Linked DNA regions of Homo sapiens: all the other regions are linked to region 2. Evidence: fine-mapped expression QTL. A gene starts in region 2. Each other region holds a variant in brackets. All regions are shown on one strand. Distances are between the middles of the regions.

Evidence for each region. PIP is the estimated chance that this variant, and not a neighbour inherited with it, causes the effect.
Region 1: its variant is fine-mapped to the expression of RAB3IP in unexposed skin (GTEx, PIP above 0.99).
Region 3: its variant is fine-mapped to the expression of RAB3IP in whole blood (TOPMed, PIP above 0.99).

What each region holds. Positions count from the first base shown.
Region 1 is chr12:69,792,342-69,800,367 of GRCh38, forward strand. It overlaps RAB3IP (RAB3A interacting protein), which reads left to right. Exons shown (of 11, transcript NM_022456.5): 5 at 2,096-2,173; 6 at 2,800-3,003; 7 at 7,868-7,996. Among named protein-coding and RNA genes, the nearest start is that of MYRFL, 29 kb to the right of the region's middle. The variant C/T (reference allele first, on the strand shown) is at 4,769.
Region 2 is chr12:69,735,513-69,743,538 of GRCh38, forward strand. RAB3IP (RAB3A interacting protein) reads left to right here and starts at 3,348. Exons shown (of 11, transcript NM_022456.5): 1 at 3,348-3,519. LOC101928002 (a long non-coding RNA gene) reads right to left here and starts at 3,038. Exons shown (of 4, transcript NR_110072.2): 1 at 2,766-3,038. RefSeq lists a silencer at 3,096-3,925.
Region 3 is chr12:69,805,877-69,813,902 of GRCh38, forward strand. It overlaps RAB3IP (RAB3A interacting protein), which reads left to right. Exons shown (of 11, transcript NM_022456.5): 9 at 6,902-7,001; 10 at 7,088-7,157. Among named protein-coding and RNA genes, the nearest start is that of MYRFL, 15 kb to the right of the region's middle. The variant C/G (reference allele first, on the strand shown) is at 4,745.

The DNA.
Region 1 (8,026 bases), 57 kb after region 2:
AGAAAAACAAAATGATATGTATATTTCAGTGTTCATAAATATTTATTAAAACAGCCACACTAATTTGTGTATTGTCTATGGCTGCTTTCATATTGCAACAGCAGAGCTGAGGAGTTGCAGCTGAGGCTGTATATGTATACATAGTGTTTGACTCTTTACAGAAAAAGTTTACCGACTCCTGGTATAGGTGATACTTACATCATTTTCAGCTTTGGAAGGGCAGTGTGATGGAAAATTTTCAAACTTTTTTTGAGTCTACCTTTTGATGTTTTTTGTCAATTTTTAAAAAATTCTGTAAAAATTCTGCATGTCATCTTTTTAGCAACTGATCCTGCCCCAGTCTAGTGCTCATCTTTCCTTTTGGGGCTCCAATTATATGTATGTTATACCTTTTCACTGTAACCCTTATGTCTGTAGTGGAAAAGTCACCTAAAATTTCACATTACTCTAAGTTTACTTCACTATTTTGTTCTCAGATACCTTCAAACATATTTTAAAAACAAACAAAAAACTTTTCTAGCTTTTCTAATCGTTCTCCGTTGGAGGTTTGGTACAAATTGCATAATCCACTATTAATGAAAACAGAGTCCATTTCCAAAAATTTAGTCAACTATTCTCTCCATAGTATGAATTACTTTTTCATTTAAAGTTAAAATGTTACTTATCTTGAAGGGTCAGATTAGCTGTGTTTATTATTTTTAAAACATTGCCAGATAGTTTTGTGTTGACAGCCACTTGTCCCAGAAAAATTCAGCAAATCTGAAACATTTGTTATTTTTAAAAGGAGAATATTTAACTCATTAAATTTGACAGCTCTTAAGGACTTTGCCAAGATAGCCAGAATAATAGTGCATGGAATATCTTCATGGTTAATATCATTTTGCTATAAATCATTGATAGTAAAGATTCTCCTATTTAAACTAGTATAAGCTGCAAATTCACATTCATGGGCACACACAAACTGCAGTGTTACAATACTGTAAAAGCTAATGAACAAACGGGAAACAAACAGTCAAACTCTGATGTAAAGAACTTCCACCTTTCCATTCTACCACTGTGCATTTTGACAGATCTAGTGAGGGTGCCATTGTCAAACTATTCATTAAATATCTTTGAAGCTCATTTCCTTCCTTCCTCTGATAAATTGTAAACTAAAGTTCTAAAATGTAAGTTCTTAAATCTCGGGGCACTATCTCAAGCACCCTATATATGCTTCCAGTCCATTCTTAATCCCTTACAGGGATTATTCTATACAAGGGCATAATCTTTTAAAAATAAAATGATCATGTCTTCCTTAAAAAAACTGTAAGGCTTCATATTGCATTTAGAATAAAACCCACAATTCTTATTCCGATGTTTTATTTGGTTAATACATATAAACAGAATGTAAGCTCCTTAAGAGCAGGGACTTTGTCCTTTCCCAGTACGTAATCAGCATCTGGAGCAGTACCTCACAAGGAGATGACATGAGTAAATGTCTCATGAATAAACATTATATGAATAAAAAGGAATTAAATACCTAGAGTTTCATATTTGTGGTACTAGAAGATTAAAACTCTATTAAAGGGTAAACTGATTTGCCTTTTTAGGTTGCTCTTCACAAAATTGTCACATAATAAAATTTTGGGAATGTTTTTATTGAAAGCTCTAAGGCTTCTTAGCTGTCATTACTATAAACTGCAACATTATTGGTGTGTTAATGTTTTTACTTGTCCCTCCTGTATGTCTTTGCTTTGACTAATAAGAACATATATAGTGACCACATTATAAAAAGCTGACTGCAAAGGAGTTGGCTTTGACACATTGGTCATTGTTTGCCTTCGTCACATTCACAGTCCTTACGCAAGTATCTATCCGGATGATTGATCTCAACTTGGCTGCCTCAGTGGTAATAGGTCCTAAAAGAAGGCACCTATTCCTAATGTCTCATAGTTTGTCTCTGTTGTCAACTGCTGCTTCCATAGTTGACATTGAATACTTAACTTCAGGCTAACTTTTGGTAGTATATCTTTGCTTCAATTGTAAACATTTGGCAAGAACTTTTTGAAAACAAATGCTACTTTGTTTCTAAAATTTGAGATGTTAACTTTTTCAGGAAGCTCATAAAATGGTGAGAGAAGCAAATATCAAGCAGGCAACAGCAGAAAAACAGCTAAAAGAAGCACAAGGAAAAGTGAGTTTTTGCAGCTCTTAATAGTATAAAATAAATTTGTGATAACTGTTTTAAAGATACCTTAACATCTGTTGGATTTTGTTCTGATCGTAAAGTAGTGCTTGTTTTCAATTTGGAAACTACAGAAAAATAGAAGAAAATAGCTACTATGTAGGTATAATTAATAGTAAACATTTCGTGTCCATTTATATGAGAACCAAATGATTTAAAACCTTGTAAATCACATGAATTATCCAAAGGATTATAGAATCACATTTTAATGTTAATACTTAGTTTTTAAATTCACTGAGAAAAGCCACCTAAATGTTATTAGATTTTACTGTTTTAGGAGTGAACTTCTACAACTAATCATAAGCTATTATATTTTGAGGATTTTGAAAATTCACATAAATGTTAGATATTTTGGTAATTTTCACAGGCTCATTTGACGTTGTTAATAATAGATGAATCCAAACCATATGGAAACATCAAAAAACTTGATTTTAGTTTCTTTTTATTACTCCACAGGAAATACAAATTAAACTTACTTTTCATCTTTGAAAGTGTTTTGACCAGATTGCTAATATTTAGCTGCATATGTCATGAAACGTATTTAATGTATGTGACTATGTTGATTTCTTTCCAAGATTGATGTACTTCAAGCTGAAGTAGCTGCATTGAAGACACTTGTATTGTCCAGTTCTCCAACATCACCTACGCAGGAGCCTTTGCCAGGTGGAAAGACACCTTTTAAAAAGGGGCATACAAGAAATAAAAGCACAAGCAGTGCTATGAGTGGCAGTCATCAGGACCTCAGTGTGATACAGCCAATTGTAAAAGACTGCAAAGAGGTAACTCATCAAGGACTGTCCCCTCTGACTCTGTTGATACTTGTTAGTTCTCATCACTGAGGTGTCAGTTATCATTTTTGCCAGCAAAATTTTTAGTACAAAATAATGCAGTATTAAGATGGGGGAGGCTTTATCTAGAGCTGGCTGCTTTCAGGGATTCTTCAGTTCCATTTTCTACCTGGCTGACCTTGGAGTACCTGCTGGAAACTTGGTAAGTTTCTTAATCTCAGTATTTCATTAAGGGAGGAAACTGTCATGTGTTGTCTAGAGGAGAGTGGGTGGCTTTAATGATCTGGCTAGTCAAAATTTATTGCTAGAGTGCGCTTACAAAGTATGGATATAAGAAATATGTGAAAATAAGATGATTTTCTTAAAGATCAATACATTGCTTTTATTTAAATTCAGAGAGAATTTTATGTCAGCAAGGGAGTCCTAGAGTTAATTTAGATAATTAAGCAACAAAAAAATAGAAATAATGGTAGCCTTACAATGACATAAGGCTGGAAGACATTTTGCTAAGTGAAATTTCAAGTTATAGTAGAACAATTAGTGTCATTTTTGATCCCAAATTAGGTTTCACAGTTCAGCCAGTCTGTTATTCAGACACTTACAACTATGTAAGGCCACCATTATCATGTATCCATAACAATTAAAAATTTAAAAACGAAATAATGGGCCGGGCATGGTGGCTCATGCCTGTAATCTCAGCACTTTGGGAGGCCAAGGCCGGAGGATCACCTGAGGTTGGGAGTTCGAGACCAGCCTGACCAACATGGAGAAACCCTATCTGTACTAAAAATATAAAATTAGCTGGGCATGGTATCTCATGCTTATAATCCCAGCTACTCAGGAGGCTGAGGCAGGAGAATCCCTTGAACCTGGGAGGCGGAGGTTGCGGTCAGCTGAGATTGCGCCATCACACTCCAGCCTGGGCAACAAGAGCGAAACTCTGTCTCAAAATCATAATAATAATAATAGTCTTATTTTAAAAGATATGTTACAAAGATAACTGAAATAATATATAAATATTTTGAGCTGTTTAGAGTAAAAATTTTTAATCATTGTATACTGTGAGAATGCATTTCTAAGAGGATTGATCAATAATTTATGAAGCTTTCCCATTTCTTCTTAGAAGCCATCTTTTACATTGTTAAATTCAAGTCCATCATTAATCTTGAAGAAATGTGTGTGCTTGTTAAATTTTTGTATGGAAGCCAGGAGTTTATTAAATGGAATAACCAATGTTAACCTGTTTTAATTGAATTGCATTTTGACGAATTATCAATAAAAATGATGCTGGTAAGAGAGAAGTTCAATACTTGGTTAAATCTGAATGTAACCAAATCCAAAATTCACATTGGTTTCTGTTAAATATTTAAGAAACTTCTTTGTCCTAACTTTAATTCTAATTCTTTGGAATTTAAATAGCAATTTTAATTGCCTGGTACAACTTGTATTTTTGGTGTTTCTTACTCAGTATGTGTAAGTAATTATGTACTTTCCCCCCTATTTACACTAACAAAATTATAAGTGTCTTCTCATGGAACATGGTAAAGATTCATTTTTAGTTTTTGAAATCCCTTAAAATGTGCATAGGCAGCATATAACTTCAAAATAATAACCTTTGCTCTTCAGGTACGTGTTATAGTCTGATGTTTCATGAAAAACTTGTCAAAAAGTCTTACTAGGCAAAGGAATTACATAAATTTGACCTGTGTAAGTCTTAGAAAAATATGTAACAATCTGGAAGAAAATTAAGCATGTC[C/T]GTGTTTTTGTAGAAAATATGATGGGGCACTCAGTTATGACATTAGCAACATGTCTTCTGTAAACATTTAAAATACACATGCATGCATGCAGACATACATGCCCAGTGCAAGGCTTTGGGATCAAGCCACTTAGATTTGAATTCGGACTTTACTGCTTTCTTGCTATGCAATCTCCGGCAAATTACAAATGGCAATCATAATATCTGTCTTGCACAGTTGTGAGGATTAAATGCTTGTAAAGTGCTTACGGTGGTTCCTGGCAGAGTCAGCTCTTAATAAATGGTTTAAATTACAGCCTTTAAACTAGAATCTTTCCTTAGAATACCACTTACCTGCTTTGGGGTTTATGTCCTTTTTCTTTTCTTTCTTTTTTTTTTTTTTTTTTTTTTTAATAAATTTGCATCTTTCTTTTTTTTTTAATTATTGTTATACTTTAAGTTTTAGGGTACATGTGCACAATGTGCAGGTTAGTTACAGATGTATACATGTGCCATGCTGGTGCCCTGCACCCACTAACTCGTCATCTAGCATTAGGTATATCTCCCAATGCTATCCCTACCCCATCCCCCCACCCCACAACAGTCCCCAGAGTGTGATGTTCCCCTTCCTGTGTCCATGTGTTCTCCTTGTTCAATTCCCACCTATGAGTGAGAATATATGGTGTTTGGTTTTTTGTTCTTGCGATAGTTTACTGAGAATGATGATTTCCAGTTTCATCCATGTCCCTACAAAGGACATGAACTCATCATTTTTTATGGCTACATAGTATTCCATGGTGTATATGTGCCACATTTTCTTAATCCAGTCTATCATTGTTGGACATTTGGGTTGGTTCCACGTCTTTGCTATTGTGAATAATGCCGCAATAAACATACGTGTGCGTGTGTCTTTATAGCAGCATGATTTATAGTCCTTTGGGTATATACCCAGTAATGGGATGGCTGGGTCAAATGGTATTTCTAGTTCTAGGTCCCTGAGGAATCACCACACTGACTTCCACAATGGTTGAACTAGTTTACAGTCCCACCAACAGTGTAAAAGTGTTCCTATTCCTCTACATCCTCTCCAGCACCTGTTGTTTCCTGACTTTTTAATGATTGCCATTGTAACTGGTGTGAGATGGTATCTCATTGTGGTTTTGATTTGCATTTCTCTGATGGCCAGTGATGGTGAGCATTTTTTCATGTGTTTTTTGGCTGCATAAATGTCTTCGTTTGAGAAGTGTCTGTTCATGTCCTTCGCCCACTTTTTGATGGGGTTGTTTGTTTTTTTCTTGTAAATTTGTTTGAGTTCATTGTAGATTCTGGATATTAGCCCTTTGTCAGATGAGTAGGTTGCGAAAATTTTCTCCCATTTTGTAGGTTGCCTGTTCACTCTGATGGTAGTTTCTTTTGCTGTGCAGAGGCTCTTTAGTTTAATTAGATCCCATTTGTCAATTTTGTCTTTTGTTGCCATTGCTTTTGGTGTTTTAGACATGAAGTCCTTGCCCATGCCTATGTCCTGAATGGTATTGCATAGGTTTTCTTCTAGGGTTTTTATGGTTTTAGGTCTAACATTTAAGTCTTTAATCCATCTTGAATTGATTTTTGTATAAGGTATAAGGAAGGGATCCAATTTCAGCTTTCTACATAGGGCTAGCCAGTTTTCCCAGCACCATTTATTAAATAGGGAATAAATTTGCATCTTTCTTAAGAAAGAGTAACAGACTTAGGTCATTAGTGTGTGCTCATATAAATCAATATATGTTGGGAACAAATACATTTGAGAAGTTAATATTAAACAGACTGTTAAATTGGAGATGTGACATCTCTTATTAGAGCCAGGAGGTAAGTGAATTAGGAACAAAGATTAAAGAGTCTTATTTAGAAGATAAATGGAATTGAGGAAGTGTCCTTTTTCTCAGTAACTTTACAAAGAAAATGCATTTGAAAATGTAAGTATTGCTTATATGCTAATATTATTTATCCTGTTGCTTTTGCTTTGATTCAAGGAATTTATGAATTGGGCTGAAAAAAATATTCACATGGAGATTGCCCTTATACACCTTAAAAGGAAGTCTGTAGGAAGGCTTGGCTACACTCAGCTCTATGTTACATTTTTGTAGACTACTTGCACATCTGATTGAGCTATCCTAGAGGCAGTCTGTAGCTGTAGTCAGTGCATCATTTATGGTGTATCCAGTGCCTCTGGAGAAGAGCAGCTTAGAGCTGTAGGATGGGGGAGACTGCTCTAGTTTGGGTGGCTGATGTCAGTGCAACTTTGTATTCCAGCAGATGCTATTGAGCTGGACTGAGGGAATCTGAGAATCTGTAGGGAAGAATACTTGGGGAAAATTTATTAGGGAGGTGAGAAAGAGAGGGATAGCTGGAGGAGTGAATAGGAAGGCAGGTGCCAGCAGTGGATTATTATTGATGCCTAAGATGGTAGTTACTGGGTGCCAAAAATATGTCAAAAATATCTAAATAAATGTTGTATTTTAAGGTAGTTTAGAAGGCTTTACGTATTCTTTTTTTTTAATCCTGTTGGTTATGCAATAACATTTTGACAATTCTTTTTGGAATGCCTTCAAGTTATAGTAGAACAATTAGTGTCATTTTTGATCCCAAACTAGGTTTCACAGTTCAGCCAGTCTCAGTTTATTCAGACACTATAATTAATTAGGTTCCAAATTACCTTTTTATTGTTTTCAGAAAAGACTTGTCATCATTTATTATATTCTGAATAGTGTGCCACCTGTGTCTTAAGAGGAACTCCAGCATTTTTGGTGGGGATGGGAGAAGGAGCTCAGAGTGAGGATAATAGTAGTGTTATTGAACATGGTAGTGAATGATGCTTGGAAAAAGGCTAATTGGTTATTTGAGAGTCATTTTTTAAAAAGGAAAACTGCTACCAGGTATTATGCTACCAGGTATTATTTGAGAGTATTTTTTAAAAAGGAAAACTGCTACCAGGTATTGAACCACCAAGAGTGGTTCAATTTATTATTTTAAATGAAGAGCTTTTTTTCAGTGATGTTTAAATTAGTTTTGGTTTTGTAAAGCGGTTTTTATGTTTATACGTTTTAAAACATGTTTTTGTGTTTTCCTTTGGTTTGTTAGGCTGACTTATCCTTGTATAATGAATTCCGATTGTGGAAGGATGAGCCCACAATGGACAGGACGTGTCCTTTCTTAGACAAAATCTACCAGGAAGATATCTTTCCATGTTTAACATTCTCAAAAAGTGAGGTAATTTTTTTTCATTTTAGTAGGAATTCA
Region 2 (8,026 bases):
TTATATATATTGCTTTGGGTTTGAGAATCAGCCAGAGCCTCTAGTCTGCCATACTACTGGACACAAAAGTTCAATATGTTTTCACTTCATTCGTTTATAAGATATTAACCTGCATTCCAAACACCAGGGCCCTAACTCTGGTGGCCTAAGCTCCCCATCCACAAAAATGAAGAATAACTACCTTTCCACCTGCATCAAATTGTTTTTTGTACAAGACTCATGTAATCATTAACATGAAGTCAGTTTGCAACTGGAAAATACCATGAAAATACATTTTCTTAACTCTGAAAACAAAACAGAGGCAAACAAGTAATAAAAGTTATAACTAAGGGTAACAACCTTAGAATGGTTTGTTCAATTTACAATGTCTATATATTTGCACTCATCTGCTTTTTTTCTGGCCCAAGGTATAAATGAGAAAGTCTTAAGATAAAAAAAAAGCAATATTATTTTATACGTTATATTTGACACTAATTGTATAATTTACATTTTTAAAAAATAAAGAGAAAAAAATAAAGAGAAAAAGGCAACCTTGAGCACACTATAAAATCTTTCACTCTTTTTTTTTTTTTTTTGAGATGGAGTCTCACTCTTGTCACCCAGGCTGGAGTGCAATGGCGCGATCGGCTCACTGCAACCTCTGCCTCCCGAGTTCAAGTGATTCAAGGTTCAAGTGATTCTCCTGCCTCAGCCTCCCGAGTAGCTGGGATTACAGGTGCCAGCCACCATGCCCGACTAATTTTTTATGTTTTTGGTAGAAATGGGGTTTCACCATGTTGGCCAGACTAGTCTTGAACTCCTGACCTCAGGTGATCTGCCCACCTCAGCCTCCCAAAGTGCTGTGATTACAGGTGTGAGCCACCGCGTGCGGCCTTTTGTTTTGTTCTTTTGAGACAGGGTGTCACTCTGTCGCCCAGGCTGGAGTGCAGTGGCGTGATTTCGGCTCACTGCAGCCTCCGCCTCCCGGGTTCAAGTGATTCTCCCACCTCAGCCTTCCAAGTAGCTGGGACTACAGGTGTGTGCCACCATGCACAGCTGATTTTTTTTTTTTTTTTTGGTAGAGATGGGGATTCACCACGTTGGCCAGGCTGGTCTCGAACTCCTTACCTCAAGGATCTGCCCACCTTGGCTTCCCAAAGTGCTGGGATTACAGGCATGAGCCACCGTGCCCATCCAAATCTTTCACATTTTTAAATTTTGTGAAATAGCTGTCCTTTTTATATATGGGTAAGCTATCAAACTTAAGATGCTCACAGCCCTTTACATACTTTGTAGGCTGAGATTCTGAGTGTCTAATATTCTGTAATGTATCTTGGTCTCTGTGCTGCAAGAACACTGAAGTATTATTATAGGTAACAATCTATATCACTCTTCTCAAACAGCGCTAACAGGTTAAGTATTCAAGAGGAACATCTTTCAGTATATTTCAAAAAGCCTCATGGATGGTAGGTGATTTGTAAATGGACCAACGCAGGACTCAGGCATATATGGTTACTGCTTACTATTTCCTATAGATCATGATGTCTTAGGTCTTATGTAGAATATATCATAGGACTTGTCCTCTAAACATTCACATACCAAGACTGCACTCTGCATGCATGCCATTCACTCATTCTGCATTTACTGAGTCAGTCCTACTGCATGTCAGACCTTGTGCCTGTTCTCAAGAAGCTCGCAGTCCAGGAAAATGGAGAAATACAGATACAATTATAACTCTATGTGATAAGTGTTACAAAGAGATACGGTGTTATGGAAGCCCTGGTAGGGGCACTTAGCCCATACTGGAGTGGCTGGGATAGGGCTGAGTGGCCAACAATAGGGAAGGGTTCACAGTGGAATTGATGTCTAGGCTAAATAATGAATAACAAATAATTAGCAAGGCAAGGAAAAGGTAGGAGATCAAGACATAAAAATAAACAGCATATGGAAATACAGGGTTGTATGTGAGTACGGCAAGACTGGGGAGCCTAAGTGGTTTGCTGTATATTTAATTTATTCATTTCACGTAGCTACTATTGACATACTTGTCTCCCTATATATGTTTGAGTCCGTGGATGGTGGGGACTTTGTAATGGTTTCTCTGTCCCTATGTCTAACAGGAGGCACACAGATGGAGTGCAATAAAATGTCTGATGAATAAATGACCAGCTATGAGGTGTAAGGGAGAATAGGAATCCATTAATGAGAAAGGTCATTTCTAGTGGCAATGAATATCAGATAAGATAGATTTAAGAATTATTTAGAAATTAGGATGAATAAGACTTGGTGATATATTGGCGATGGGGTATAAAATAAGAAACACTGGCTTTCTAGGTTTCTGGATTACAGATGCATGATAATAGTTATAATGGTATAATAACAATAGCTAATATTTATTAGGCACTCTGTGTCATGAAGTACGCAAAGTGTTTACATGAATTAAGCCATTTAAACTCTTAATGACTCAGTGAGGCAGGTTCTGTATACTCATTCACTGATGAGAAAATTGGGGCTAGAGAGATTCATTTGCCTAAGGTCACTCAGCTAGCAGGTGGCAGGCTCAAGCCCAGTAATTCTGACTCCAACAACCATACATATAGTCTACTTTTCTTTACTGCCTCTAATAGATGAGATTAATACCCAGAATGATGGTCCTATTCAATAAGTGTATCACACAAATGCACGTTTCTCTTTTGCTAAACATAGAGACACATACTATGACTACCTCTATTATTATTATTTTTTTTTGATTTTTGGGATCTTGGCTCTTTCTGTATTTTTCCTACCTGGAAGACCTAAAGTGGGGTAGAAGTTTGATAAAACAGTTGGCACAAAAGATGAGAGAAGACAGGTACAGACATGACATTCTCGAACGCTCTGGCAGTTGCTGGAATGATGGGATCTGGGTTCTACAGGATTCCTCCCCTCCCATCTCCCGCCACACACACACACGTCGTAAGGTGTATATGGCCGCGGAGTCTCAGGTTGGTTCTAGGAGTCCTCAACCCACGGCAAAGGTGCCTCTTCTCCCTCCTGGAGAGCCCAACATGCTTGAAGTTAACCTGAGGCCGCCTCTCGGGCCCGGCGAAACAGAGCGCGGGCCCGACGAAACAGAGCGCGGGCCCGACGAAACAGAGCGCAGCTCCGGCTCGCGCTGGTTCCCAGGGAAACCGCCCGCGGAGGAACCTCGGGCCAGGGCCGTGACACCTGCGACGAGCCCCGCCTGGCGCCAGGGGGCGCGGAAGCGCGTCCGCCCCCAGGCCCCATGCCGGGCTCGCCCCGCCCCTGCCGGCCACACCCCCCTACCCCGCCCTCCCTCCGTGAGGACCGGCCGCTCCCGGCTCCCGGCCCCCGGCCCCGCTTCCGGCGCAGGCGCAGTCCCGCGTTCCCTCGGCGGCTGCCGGCGTAGTGAGCCCGCCGCCGTGGAGTGTAGCGGAAAGGGCTCGCCGTCCTCCTCCGTTTCTCGCTGCTTCGGGACGCGCTCTCTGCGGCTCTGTGAGCGCCCCTGAGCGCCGGCAGCGGCCGCGGTGGGTTCTTCAGGTGAGTGCGGCCGCGGGAGGGAGAGGCCCGGAGCGTAGAGCACCGCCCCCCTCGGCGCCCGCGCGCCCGCCTCTGGCGAGTCGGCCAGGAGGGGCGGCCGCGGCAGGTGCAGGTGCTGGCGCCGTGCAGGGCGCGGCACGCGGGGGTTCGGGGGGATGCCCAGGCCCGGTGAGCTCGCTCTCCGCCTGGGCACTTGGGCTCCGGGCCCTTGGGGGCGGCGTGTGGGGGGGACTTTGGCGACCCGGGTCAGCCGGCCGCCCCCTGGGCTGCTGGTGGGCGTCGGGCGGCGGCTCCTCCCCCGGGCACGGGCGCGTTACACATTAACTGCGCGGTCCCGCGCGCCCGGGGCAGGGAGCCCGAGTCCAGCGGGTTACCTGGCGGCGGGCGGGCGCGGCCGGGAGCGGAGGGCCGCGGTCGCGAAGAGGATGAAGAGAGAGTTCCCGAACAAGTCGGAAGCAGCTCACAACACCGGACGCCGCGCGGCAGGGCTGTGGACCTGGGGTGGTTTCGTGTCCCAGTCTTAGGAAACTACGCGCGAGGCACCGTGCTGAGGCGTAGAGGTCACCCTCGGGAGGTTTCGGTGAAACCTGGTGGGAAATTCCGGGCAGGCGCCCGGAGTCGCGCCCAAGTAGGCAGCTCCGTGCCGCCAGACTTGTGTTCGGGGGAGTTGAGACGAACTGCACGGGTGGGATTGCATGGCTCTGCCCTCCCAGCGTTGACAACTCGCCCCGACCGCCCAGGAAGCGCGAGCTTACTGGCTCCAGAAGTGATGATGCTGGGTGGAAGTCGCAGCATGTGAAGAGTTGCCGGTTGTTATGGGATTAAAAAAGATGAAAGGGTAAGGTCTTGAAAGACACGAGCGCTGAGTTAGTTAGTACTGATTACTGAGAGGCAATTTAGTTTCATGGAAATGTTGCCTGTTCGGAGGCTACCTGTTATACACTCTCCTGTTTCACCCCAACTCCTTCCGTTCAGTGTCGGGTTAAAAGCCTTGTAATCTCTTGCAGTGGAATGATTGCATAATTGGAGGAGGGGCCCATAAGAGGATTACAACAAAACTGTTCCATTGTAAATCAGTTGAAAGACCCAGTTCTTGTTCATTATCCTTTTTCTCATTTTGTTGTTCATGAAGGTTTTTTTTTCTTCCAGTGCTGAATGACAAATCAAGGAGAAAAGAGGCAGAATAGGGTTGTAGACCAATCGTAGTAAATATTTGATACTGTTAAATATTTCACCAGTTTTATGGGGCCTTGTTCTGTTATCATTTGTTATTTATTTACTAGTACTGTGCATTTTGATAGGACTTTTCATGTTTGGACAGACAGTGTATTCCAGATGCGGCTTATGTGATCTAATCCTAAAGCCCTTGTGGAATTTATAGAAATAAACAGTTATACAATTAAGTAGTCCATTTTTTAACTATTAAATGAAAAGCCATTGCATTTTTTTCCATTACAGTAATGTTACATATTAATGTATACCTTTGTGAACCAAAGTGTTTGATACAACTCTTCCTTCTGTGTTTGGTAAACAACTCATCTGTGGTACTGAATACTTGTAATCTTTCACCAGGATGGCCATTTAATGTTTAGCTGCTTTGTGGGATTTCTGAATAGATCCTATTGTACTTTTTGAATTAGTGCAGTTATCCATATGTTTCCTTTAATATTCTTTACCTTTGATTTTGTCTAAACTCTCATCCTCCCCCAACACACACATCCTCTACAAATAATTTTTAAAATGGAAAGGTTCTTAGAAATGTTTCACCCCCTCATTTTTTAAATATGGCACGAAAAAATACTTTGTAGATTACAGTAGTTTTATATGCATTATAGTAGTTACTATACTTTTTTCCTCCTCAACAGGAGTCAGTGAACAAATTAGTGAGCTGGCTGAATGAAAAATTATTTAATGTTCAGCTCCATCACTTACTGTGCATAAAACCTTGAGTAAAACATTTAACCTGTTTGAGCTTATTTTCTCCATTTGTCAGTGGAAATACTATTAGGTTGAAATTGCTAATATTCTGCTGTTTTTTATGTTTCAACCTAATATGAACTTCATAATGGTAAGATGAGGATTTAATAACATACTCCATTAGAGATGTGGGGAAGGGGAGAAGGAACCAGTGTGAGCTTGATTGTGTGCAAGGCACTGTGTGTGCTTGTTTTCGATACCTTGACTCCTCAGTCCTCTGGACATTCCCGGGATATAGGTGGTTTATCAAATTTTACAAGTCAGGAAATGGAGGCTTAGAAAGTTGCGATAATTTGTCTATGGTTACTTAGTTGTAGGTGGTCGTACAGCTGGCCAGTGACAGAGCCGGTATTAAAAACTGTATCCGACTGCCCAAAATGGAACGTAGTGCTTTTGTTTCTTACATTCCTGGTCTGCACCTTCTATTAAAGAGCTTTGTAACTATAAGGAGGCACACAGATGACAAGTGTTACCATTTGTATTTCTGGTTTAAAAATATCCAAGTTTTCTGAAGACGGTGATACCAGCATTGCTACTACAGTTACTTTTAAGTCTAGTGCTTATCAAGCGAAGTCCTGGTGTAAGCTTTATACTCATTTACTCTCAGAGTGAGCGAGGAGATAATACTTTATCCCTATTTTGTAGTTGAGAAAATTGAGACCCTGAGACCTTATGTAGTTTGCTCAACGTCACATAGTTAATTAAGTGACAGGTCTAGATTAGATGTCAGACAGTTTGTCTTCCATGTCTGTGCTCTTAACCACTACACTCTGTCATTTCTTCATGTATAAGTGGTAATGCTAAAGAATTGTTTGCTCATAATCACTACATTATCACTTCTTTATGTGTAGCTTATAATGCTGAAGAACTTTGTAATTTAGCTTTTATGAGATACGTAATGTTAATGTAATATGTAATTCTCATTGTGTCACCAGAGATTTTTTTAAATCAAATACTCATTGAGCATCTACTCTGCAAGTCACAGTAGGGGTTAAAGGAAACTGTTCTTAAGGAATATGGAAGGTAGGGCCTTATAATCATTCCCATATCTTTTATAAGTTCTTCAAAATGTAGAACGCACTTTACATATTTTAATGAATGTCAACTAAGACAAAGTGCTAGGATAGTTGAGTAGTGGAGAGGAAGGACAGATGGATAGTGGGTAGAGATATTTGTGCATTGAGGTAATGAGGGAAAGCTTTGAAGATATTCCAAGGGAGTACGCTTTTTCACACTAAACTTTTTTCCGATATAATTCTGATTAAGATGCAGTTCATCAAAGGATAGTAAATTGGTTACTACGCATTTGATATCCTAAAAACAAAATATCTGAGCTTTTGTAAACTGCTTTCTAGCTTGTTTCTCCTTTTTTATGCTACTATCCTTAGTTGTACCAGATGGTACTCTTTTTAAAAATTTTATGCTTTTATAATACTGAGTACCTCTTTTTTGGTATTTATGAACTTTGATATTTGTGTTGTATTTGTAATTGTTTCTAGGGCCCTAGAAACATGTTTATTGGCAAGGTGGTCTCTTCCTCTAGTCTACAAGTGCTTCGAGAGTAGGGCTTACCTCATTTTATAGCTTTAACATCGGGCCAGGTAAGTACTGTGCTGTGTTTGGTGATGGATGATCAGTTGAAGAATGTTAGGATGTTTTGAAGCTGCTCTAGCAGTAGAAATTGAAATGAACATTGAGAAATGAAGGGACAAAGGAAGGAAGAGGAAGATATTTATACAACTGGGAGCATTAACTTGCTATCTCTATTTTCCCTTCTGCTTTCCTTTTCAACTTACCACTAAATGAGGTAGTTTTATAAGCTTACATCGTACATAGTCATGGTTAGAGAAAAGTGGAAAAAGTAATCTGATTTATCTTAGAATATAGGGCAACACGAAATTAGATAACTATAGCCGTAAACTGATATTACTTAGAGGAAAAAGAATGAAAATTATTCAAATAGTTCAAGTTCATGAAAGATTTGATGCTTGTCGTTAACAGTAGGATTGTAAATATAATCATAATGGCAGTTGATGAAATTCCTCTGAGGGGTATGGATACATACACAAATAAGTATATGAATTGACAGCTTAGTATGAAGAAACTATTCAAGAATGTGAGAATGCCCTATGAGCATAAAGGAGCATATAGATGATAGCTTAGAACCACTTAAATAAGTGAATTGTAATTTGATATGCCCAGATAAAAGTAATAGTATTGAATATTTGTTTGGGAGCATCTGGTTGTCAGATAAGGATAAAGTATAAAAGAAAAACCAAAATAAGTTTGAAAAAACAATAAGCAAATTTGTATCAATTCCCTGTGGGGAAAAGAATCATATTTGAACTACATGCCTCATAAAGACTAGTTTTCCCTTTCTTTCCTTTTACCTAAGATAAATAAAGATACCTTCTGATTTGTAAGACAAACCCCTCAGTATGCTTTTGCTATTTCCCCCATTACATTTTTTTCTTTCTTAGATCTTTATAAAATCATACATTTATGTTGTGCTTTACAATGTATACATTTT
Region 3 (8,026 bases), 70 kb after region 2:
TGTGTTGCTGGATTCGGTTTGCCAGTATTTTATTGAGGATTTTTGCATCAATGTTCATCAAGGATATTGGTCTAAAATTCTCTTTTTTTGTTATGTCTCTGCCCGGCTTTGGTATCAGGATGATGCTGGCCTCATAAAATGTGTTAGGGAGGATTCCCTCTTTTTCTATTTATTGGAATAGTTTCAGAAGGAATGGTACCAGCTCCTCCTTGTGCCTCTGGTAGAATTCGGCTGTGAATCCATCTGGTCTGGACTTTTTTTGGTTGGTAAGCTATTAATTATTGCCTCAATTTCAGATCCTGTTATTGGTCTATTCAGAGATTCAACTTCTTCCTGGTTTAGTCTTGGGAGAGTGTATGTGTCGAGGAATTTATCCATTTCTTCTAGATTTTCTAGTTTATTTGCATAGAGGTGTTTATAGTATTCTCTGATGGTAGTTTGTATTTCTGTGGGAGCAGTGGTGATATCCCCTTTATCATTTTTTATTGCACCTATTTGATTCTTCTCTCTTTTCTTCTTTATTAGTCTTGCTAGCGGTCTATCAGTTTTGTTGATCTTTTCAAAAAACCAGCTCCTGGATTCATTGATTTTTTTGAAGGGTTTTTTGCGTCTCTATTTCCTTCAGTTCTGCTCTGATCTTAGTTATTTCTTGCCTTCTGCTAGCTTTTGAATGTGTTTGCTCTTGCTTCTCTAGTTTTTTTTTTTTTTTTTTTTTTAGTATTTATTGATCATTCTTGGGTGTTTCTTGGAGGGGGTATGTGGCAGTGTCATAGGATAATAGTGGAGAGATGGTCAGCAGATAAACACGTGAACAAAGGTCTCTGGTTTTCCTAGACAGAGGTCCCTGTGGCCTTCCGCAGTGTTTGTGTCCCTGGGTACTTGAGATTAGGGAGTGGTGATGACTCTTAATGAGCATGCAGCCTTTAAGCATCTGTTTAACAAAGCACATCTTGCACTGCCCTTAATCCATTTAACCCTGAGTTGACACAGCACATGTTTCAGAGAGCACGGGGTTGGGGGTAAGGTTATAGATTAACAGCATCCCAAGGCAGAAGAATTTTTCTTAGTCCAGAACAAAATGGAGTCTCCTATGTCTACTTCTTTCTAGACAGACACAGTAACAATCTGATCTCTCTTTCTTTTCCCCACATTTCCCCCTTTTCTTTTCAACAAAACCGCCATCGTCATCATGGCCTGTTCTCGACGGTCGCTGTCTCTTCGGAGCTGTTGGGTACACCTCCCAGACGGGGCGGCCGGGCAGAGGTGCTCCTCACTTCCCAGACGGGGTGGCCGGGCAGAGGAGCTCCTCACATCCCAGACAGTGGGCGGCCAGGCAGAGGCTCTCCTCACCTCTCAGACGGGGCAGCCGTGCAGAGGCGCTCCTCACCTCCCAGACGGGGCAGCCGGGCAGAGGCGCTCCTCACCTCCCAGACGGGGCGGCCGGGCAGAGGCGCTCTTCACCTCCCAGACAGGGCGGCAGGGCAGAGGCGCTTCCCACCTCCCTGACGGGGCGGCCGGGAAGAGGCGCCCCTCACCTCCCAGACGGGGCGGCCGGGCGGAGGCGCTCCTCACATCCCAGACAGGACGGCTGGGCAGAGGCGCTCCTCACTTCCCAGACGACGGGCGGCCGGGCAGAGGCACTCCTCACCTCCCAGACAGGGTGGCTGGGCAGAGACGCTCCTCACCTCTCAGACAGGGCGGCCGGACAGAGGCGCTCGCTTCCTAGATGGGGCGGCCGGGCAGAGGCGCTCCTTACCTCCCAGACGAAGGGTGGCCGGGCAGAGGTGCTCCTCACATCCCAGACGATGGGCGGCCGGGCAGAGGCGCTCCTCACTTCCTAGATGGGGCGGCCGGGCAGAGGTGCTCACTTCCCAGATGGGGCGGCTGGGCAGAGGCGCTCCTCACCTCCCAGATGATGGGCAGCCAGGCAGAGGCGCTCCTCACCTCCCAGACGGGGCGGCCGTGCGGAGGCGCTCCTCACCTCCCAGACGGGGCGGCCGGGCGGAGACGCTCCTCACCTCCCAGATGGGGCGGCCGGGCGGAGGCGCTCCTCACCTCCCAGACGGGTTGGCCAGGCAGATCTCTAGTTCTTTCAATTGTGATGTTAGGGTGTCAATTTTAGATCTTTCCTGCTTTCTCTTGTGGGCATTTAGTGCTATAAATTTCCCTCTACACACTGCTTTGAATGCGTCCCAGAGATTCTGGTATGTTGTGTCTTTGTTCTCGTTGGTTTCAAAGAACATCTTTATTTCTGCCTTCATTTTGTTATGTACCCAGTAGTCATTCAGGAGCAGGTAGTTCAGTTTCCATGTAGTTGAGCAGTTGTGAGTGAGTTTCTTAATCCTGAGTTCTAGTTTGATTGCACTGTGGTCTGAGAGACAGTTTGTTATAATTTCTGTTCTTTTACATTTGCTGAGGTGTGCTTTACTTCCAACTATGTGGTCAACTTTGGAATAGGTGTGGTGTGGTGCTGAAAAGAATGTATATTCTGTTGATTTGGGGTGGAGAGTTCTGTAGATGTCTATTAGGTCTGCTTGGTGCAGAGCTGAGTTCAATTCCTGGATATCTTTGTTAACTTTCTGTCTCGTTGATCTGTGTTGACACAGTGGGGTTGTTGACAGTGGGGTGTTAAAGTCTCCCATTATTATTGTTTGGGAGTCTAAGTCTCTTTGTAGGTCACTAAGGACTTGCTTTATGAATCTGGGTGCTCCTGTATTGGGTGCATATATATTTAGGATAGTTAGTTCTTCTTGTTGAATTGATCCCTTTACCATTATGTAATGGTCTTGTCTCTTTTGATCTTTGTTGGTTTAAAGTCTGTTTTATCCGAGACTAGGATTACAACCCCTGCCTTTTTTTGTTTTCCATTTGCTTGGTAGATCTTCCTCCATCCCTTTATTTTGAGCCTATGTGTGTTTCTGCACATGAGATGGGTTTCCTGAATACAGCATACTGATGGGTCTTGACTCTTTATCCAATTTGCCAGTCTGTGTCTTTTAATTGGAGCATTTAGCCCATTTACATTTAAGGTTAATATTGTTATGTGTGAATTTGATCCTGTCATTATGATGTTAGCTGGTTATTTTGCTCATTAGTTGATGCAGTTTCTTCCTAGCCTTGATGGTCTTTACAATTTGGCATGTTTTTGCAGTGGCTGGTACCGGTTGTTCCTTTCCATGTTTAGTGCTTCCTTCAGGAGCTCTTTTAGGGCAGGCCTGGTGGTGACAAAATCTCTCAGCATTTGCTTGTCTGTAAAGTATTTTATTTCTCCTTCACTTATGAAGCTTAGTTTGGCTGGATATGAAATTCTGGGTTGAAAATTATTTTCTTTAAGAATGTTGAATATTGGCCCTCACTCTCTTCTGGCTTCTAGAGTTTCTGCCGAGAGATCAGCTGTTAGTCTGATGGGCTTCCCTTTGTGGGTAACCCGACCTTTCTCTCTGGCTGCCCTTAACATTTTTTCCTTTATTTCAACTTTGGTGAATCTGACAATTATGTGTCTTGGAGTTGCTCTGCTCGAGGAGTATCTTTGTAGCATTCTCTGTATTTCCTGAATTTGAATGTTGGCCTGCCTTGCTAGATTGGGGAAGTTCTCCTGGATAATATCCTGCAGAGTGTTTTCCAACTTGGTTCCATTCTCCCCGTCACTTTCAGGTACACCAATCAGACGTAAATTTGGTCTTTTCACATAGTCCCATATTTCTTGCAGGCTTTGTTCATTTCTTTTTATTCTTTTTTCTCTAAACTTCTCTTCACGCTTCATTTCATTCATTTTGTCTTCCATCACTGATACCCTTTCTTCCAGTTGATTGCATCGGTTACTGAGGCTTGTGCATTCGTCACGTAGTTCTCATGCCATGGTTTTCAGCTCCATCAGGTCCTTTAAGGACTTCTCTGCATGGGTTATTCTAGTTATCCATTCGTCTAATTTTTTTCAAGGTTTTTAACTTCTTTGCCATTGGTTCGAACTTCCTCCTTTAGCTCAGAGAGTTTGATCTTCTGAAGCCTTTCTCTCTCAACTCGTCAAAGTCATTCTCCATCCAGCTTTGTTCCGTTGCTGGTGAGGAGCTGCGTTCCTTTGGAGGAGGAGAGGCGCTCTGATTTTTAGAGTTTCCGGTTTTTCTGCTCTGTTTTTTCCCCATCTTTGTGGTTTTATCTACCTTTGTTCTTTGATGATGGTGACGTACAGATGGGTTTTTGGTGCAGATGTCCTTTCTGTTTGTTAGTTTTCCTTCTAACAGTCAGGACCCTCAGCTGCAGGTCTGTTGGAGTTTACTGGAGGTCCACTCCGGACCCTGTTTGCCTAGGTATCAGCAGTGGTGGCTGCAGAACAGCAGATAGTGCTGAACCGCAAATGCTGCTGCCTGATCGTTCCTCTGGAAGTTTTGTCTCAGAGGAGTACCCGGCAGTGTGAGGTGTCAGTCCGCCCCTACTGGGGGGTGCCTCCCAGTTAGGCTACTCGGGGGTCAGGGAGCCACTTGAGGAGGCAGTCTGCCTGTTCTCAGATCTCAAGCTGCGTGCTGGGAGAACCACTGCTCTCTTCAAAGCTTAGCTGGAAATGCAGAAATCACCCGTCTTCTGTGTGGCTCACGCTGGGAGCTGTAGACTGGAGCTGTTCCTATTCGGCCATCTTGGCTCCACCCTCCAGAAATAAAAACTGGTTTAGGTTTTTGAAGCATAAGGGTAATTTGGATAAAGAGCAATACATAACAACTGAAGGCCTAGAAACAAATCAAAGTGCGTT[C/G]AAAGGATGGTCAGTGTATGGAGAGGAAAGGGAAGATGTGACATTTTAAGAAAGAAAAGTTAGATTGGGGTGGGGGGATGGGTAAAGGAGAAAGGAGTTAGAGATATCTGACTGGAAGACTGATTTGAAGTGATTGTGGAAATTAATGGAAAAGGCTTTGATTTGTGGAAGAGGATTACGGTCTAGATTTAGACATATTGACATCCTCACATGAAAATGGGAAACAAGGATTTGAAATCTTGGGACTAGAGTTATAGAGATTTATTAATGTAGTGTAGCATGTTTGGGAAAAAAATGGAGTTGGAGGTCAGAGGTCTGTTTGCATTGAATCCTGGCTTAACTAAAAATACATTAGGTGTGTCCAGTTTACAAAATAGCTTAGAAATGAGATCTTTTAAGAAACGCTATACACCATGGAATACTATACAGCCATAAAAAAGAATGAGATCATGTCCTTTGCAGGGACATGGCTGGAGCTGGAGGCCGTTATCCTTAGCAACCTAATGTAGGAGCAGAAAACCACATGCTGCCTGTTCTCCCTTATAAGTGGGAGCTAAATGATGAGAACACATGGACACATAGAAGGGAACAACACACACTGCCGCTTGTGGAAGGGTGGAGGATGGGAAGAGGGAGAAGATCAGGAAGAATAATGGATACTTATTCTTCCTGAATCACCCAGGGTGATGAAATAATATATACAACAAACCCGCATGACACATGTTTACCTATGTAATAAACCTGCACACCCTGCAGTTGTACTCCTGAACTTACAAGTTAAAAAAAAGAAACACTTATTATTTTAAAAGTTGATACTTAAAGCCACCTTACCAGATCCCTTTCAAAATTAGGCTAAACAGTAGACCAGCAGGCATATGTCTGTTTCCAGAAGAATAGTGTATAAATTGGTTTTTAGCAGCTTAATGGCACATTTTCCTCTTATGCAAATTATACTTTTGGAAGTTCCACAGACTTCCAACACTTTGTGCTTTAAATTTCTGTATCTTCTATCCTCCCCAAGCTAGTAGTTAGTGCTTTTAAATATTGTTACAGATCATTAAAGGAATTTGCTAATAAAGAAACAATGAAGAAATATCTATTTGAAAAAAGACAGGAATTGATTTGTGATTTGAATTGCCCCCTCCTCAAAAATTATCCTGTTTCAAATACACATTGTTGTGTGTTTTCTTAATACAAAGGCACTTTTGTATTATATTTCTTGTATCGCTAAAATGTAATGTTATTTAATATATTTACTATATAATTTATACTGTCATATAAAATGCTGTTTGCCACTTACTTAGAGCTATGCTAATTTTGCATTGATGGGGAGTGATAGTTGTATTGAGCCAGGTTCCTAGCTTAGGGTGACAGCTGGGCTGCTGCAAGTCCGGCCTGATAGACATGCTAGCTTTATCTCATGGAGCCATAGGGTAACAGATGGCTCATTACTTATTCAGCAGTCATTGAATGTGTGCTGTGTGCCAGGCATTTAAAGATGAATCAAAGTCCCTGCCCTCAAGAGGTTGATAGCCTAATCCCAGCCAGAAAGCCCTCATATAAAATTTTAGCTTTTGTCATATGCAAATAGAAAGGATCATGTGAAATTCAGTGAACTTGTTACATGATTGTTAAGATTCAGTATTTTTATAAGGTGGCTTATTCCTTTGTACTTCTCCCTAGGTCCCACATTAAATGCATATAGAGCAACCAACCAACCAAATAAACAAATACCCCATCTGGAAACTATTACCCTGCAAGCTATCAATAACATGCTTTGAGACTTGAACAGTCATCATGAGGATATTTTCAGCTGAGAAGCTGAAATCCTGATGGAAAGCTGAGAGCTGTCCTGCAGCTGATTACTGATTTGTAAATTTGTTCCAAGATGGGACATACATGGAAAACACCTAGTTTCTGTTTCTAGAATCATGGTTAATGTTATGGCATTAAACTTATACTACTAATAGAATGTAAGTCTCACAAGGGCAGAGACTTTGTCCTTTTCATCACTTTAGCCCAGCATCTAGAACGGTGCCTGGTACACAGTAGGTTCTCAAATATTTGTTATCTAACTGAATGAATAGGCAACTTGTACAGAAGGTAGGGGCAAATGCTTTTCATTTCAAAAAACTGAAATTTATCATTATTTCACAGAAAATGTGCTCTCACTGGCCAGAGTAAGTCCTGTAAACACAGAATTAAATTAGGGGACTCAAGCAACTATTATTATATTTCTCCTTTTTGCAGATACAGGGTAAGTGACTTAACCATGAATTTTAATAAAGCTTGCTTTGATATGGGACATTTGACCATTCATGACATTTTCTCCATTTGGCCTAGATCACTTCTGTATGTAACTTTTTTACATACATTCGATACATTCAGCAGGGACTCGTGAAACAGCAGGATGGTGAGTGTTCTTGATTCAATATAAGTCTTTACATAAAAGTTCAGCAAAAAGTATAAGTAAAGTTCAACAAAAAGTATAGAATAGTAGTAATGCTCATATCAGCTTTATTGTTGGTACATTTATATTGAATCCCTTCTATAGTTCTAATAAAATTTGTGGAGAATTTGGGAACAAATGTCTTTTAGAAAAATATTGTGTTTAATTATTTTATTTGCCTCATTTTACTCTTAATTTTGAATTTTAAGCAGGGTCAGTTTTAACTCATAAGGGGTATATGATAAACCAGATGGTAAATGAGAAGAGAGTTCTAAGCTCATTGAATTGACTCTTTAAGAGATGAAAATGAGTAGGCCAGCAAAGTGGTCAGATTTATTTTAATTGATGGAAACCATCATGGAGCTCAAAATTAAGTTTTCCCTGTATTTTCTACTTTTTGCGTGTGAATTAATAAAGCAGTCATGAGGATAATTCTGAATGGAATAAAGATTGCCATATTCTAAATCAGCAGAAATGTGCAGGTGATATATCCAGGAGAACCAACCTCATGAAAGTGTGTTAATATTTTTAATACAATTTTATAGCTAAATATCTTAAATATCAGGCATGAAAACTAATATGGCCTGACAGCTCCAAAGCAGTATCTCTCGAGCACAAATGATAGTTTAAAAAAAAAAATAGCAGATACTAGGCTAGGGACAAGTCTGTGCCAGTTAGTATTTAAAGTTTTACAAAATTTCCCTGTTTATATTTTTTAGGCACTGAAAATATTATCTTGCTTAAACACTGGTAGAAGCCTACCATCTTTCAATCATGTAAAGCAGTGAATCTTAATTCTATGGAGAAGTTAGTCACGCTGATAAAAACTTAGT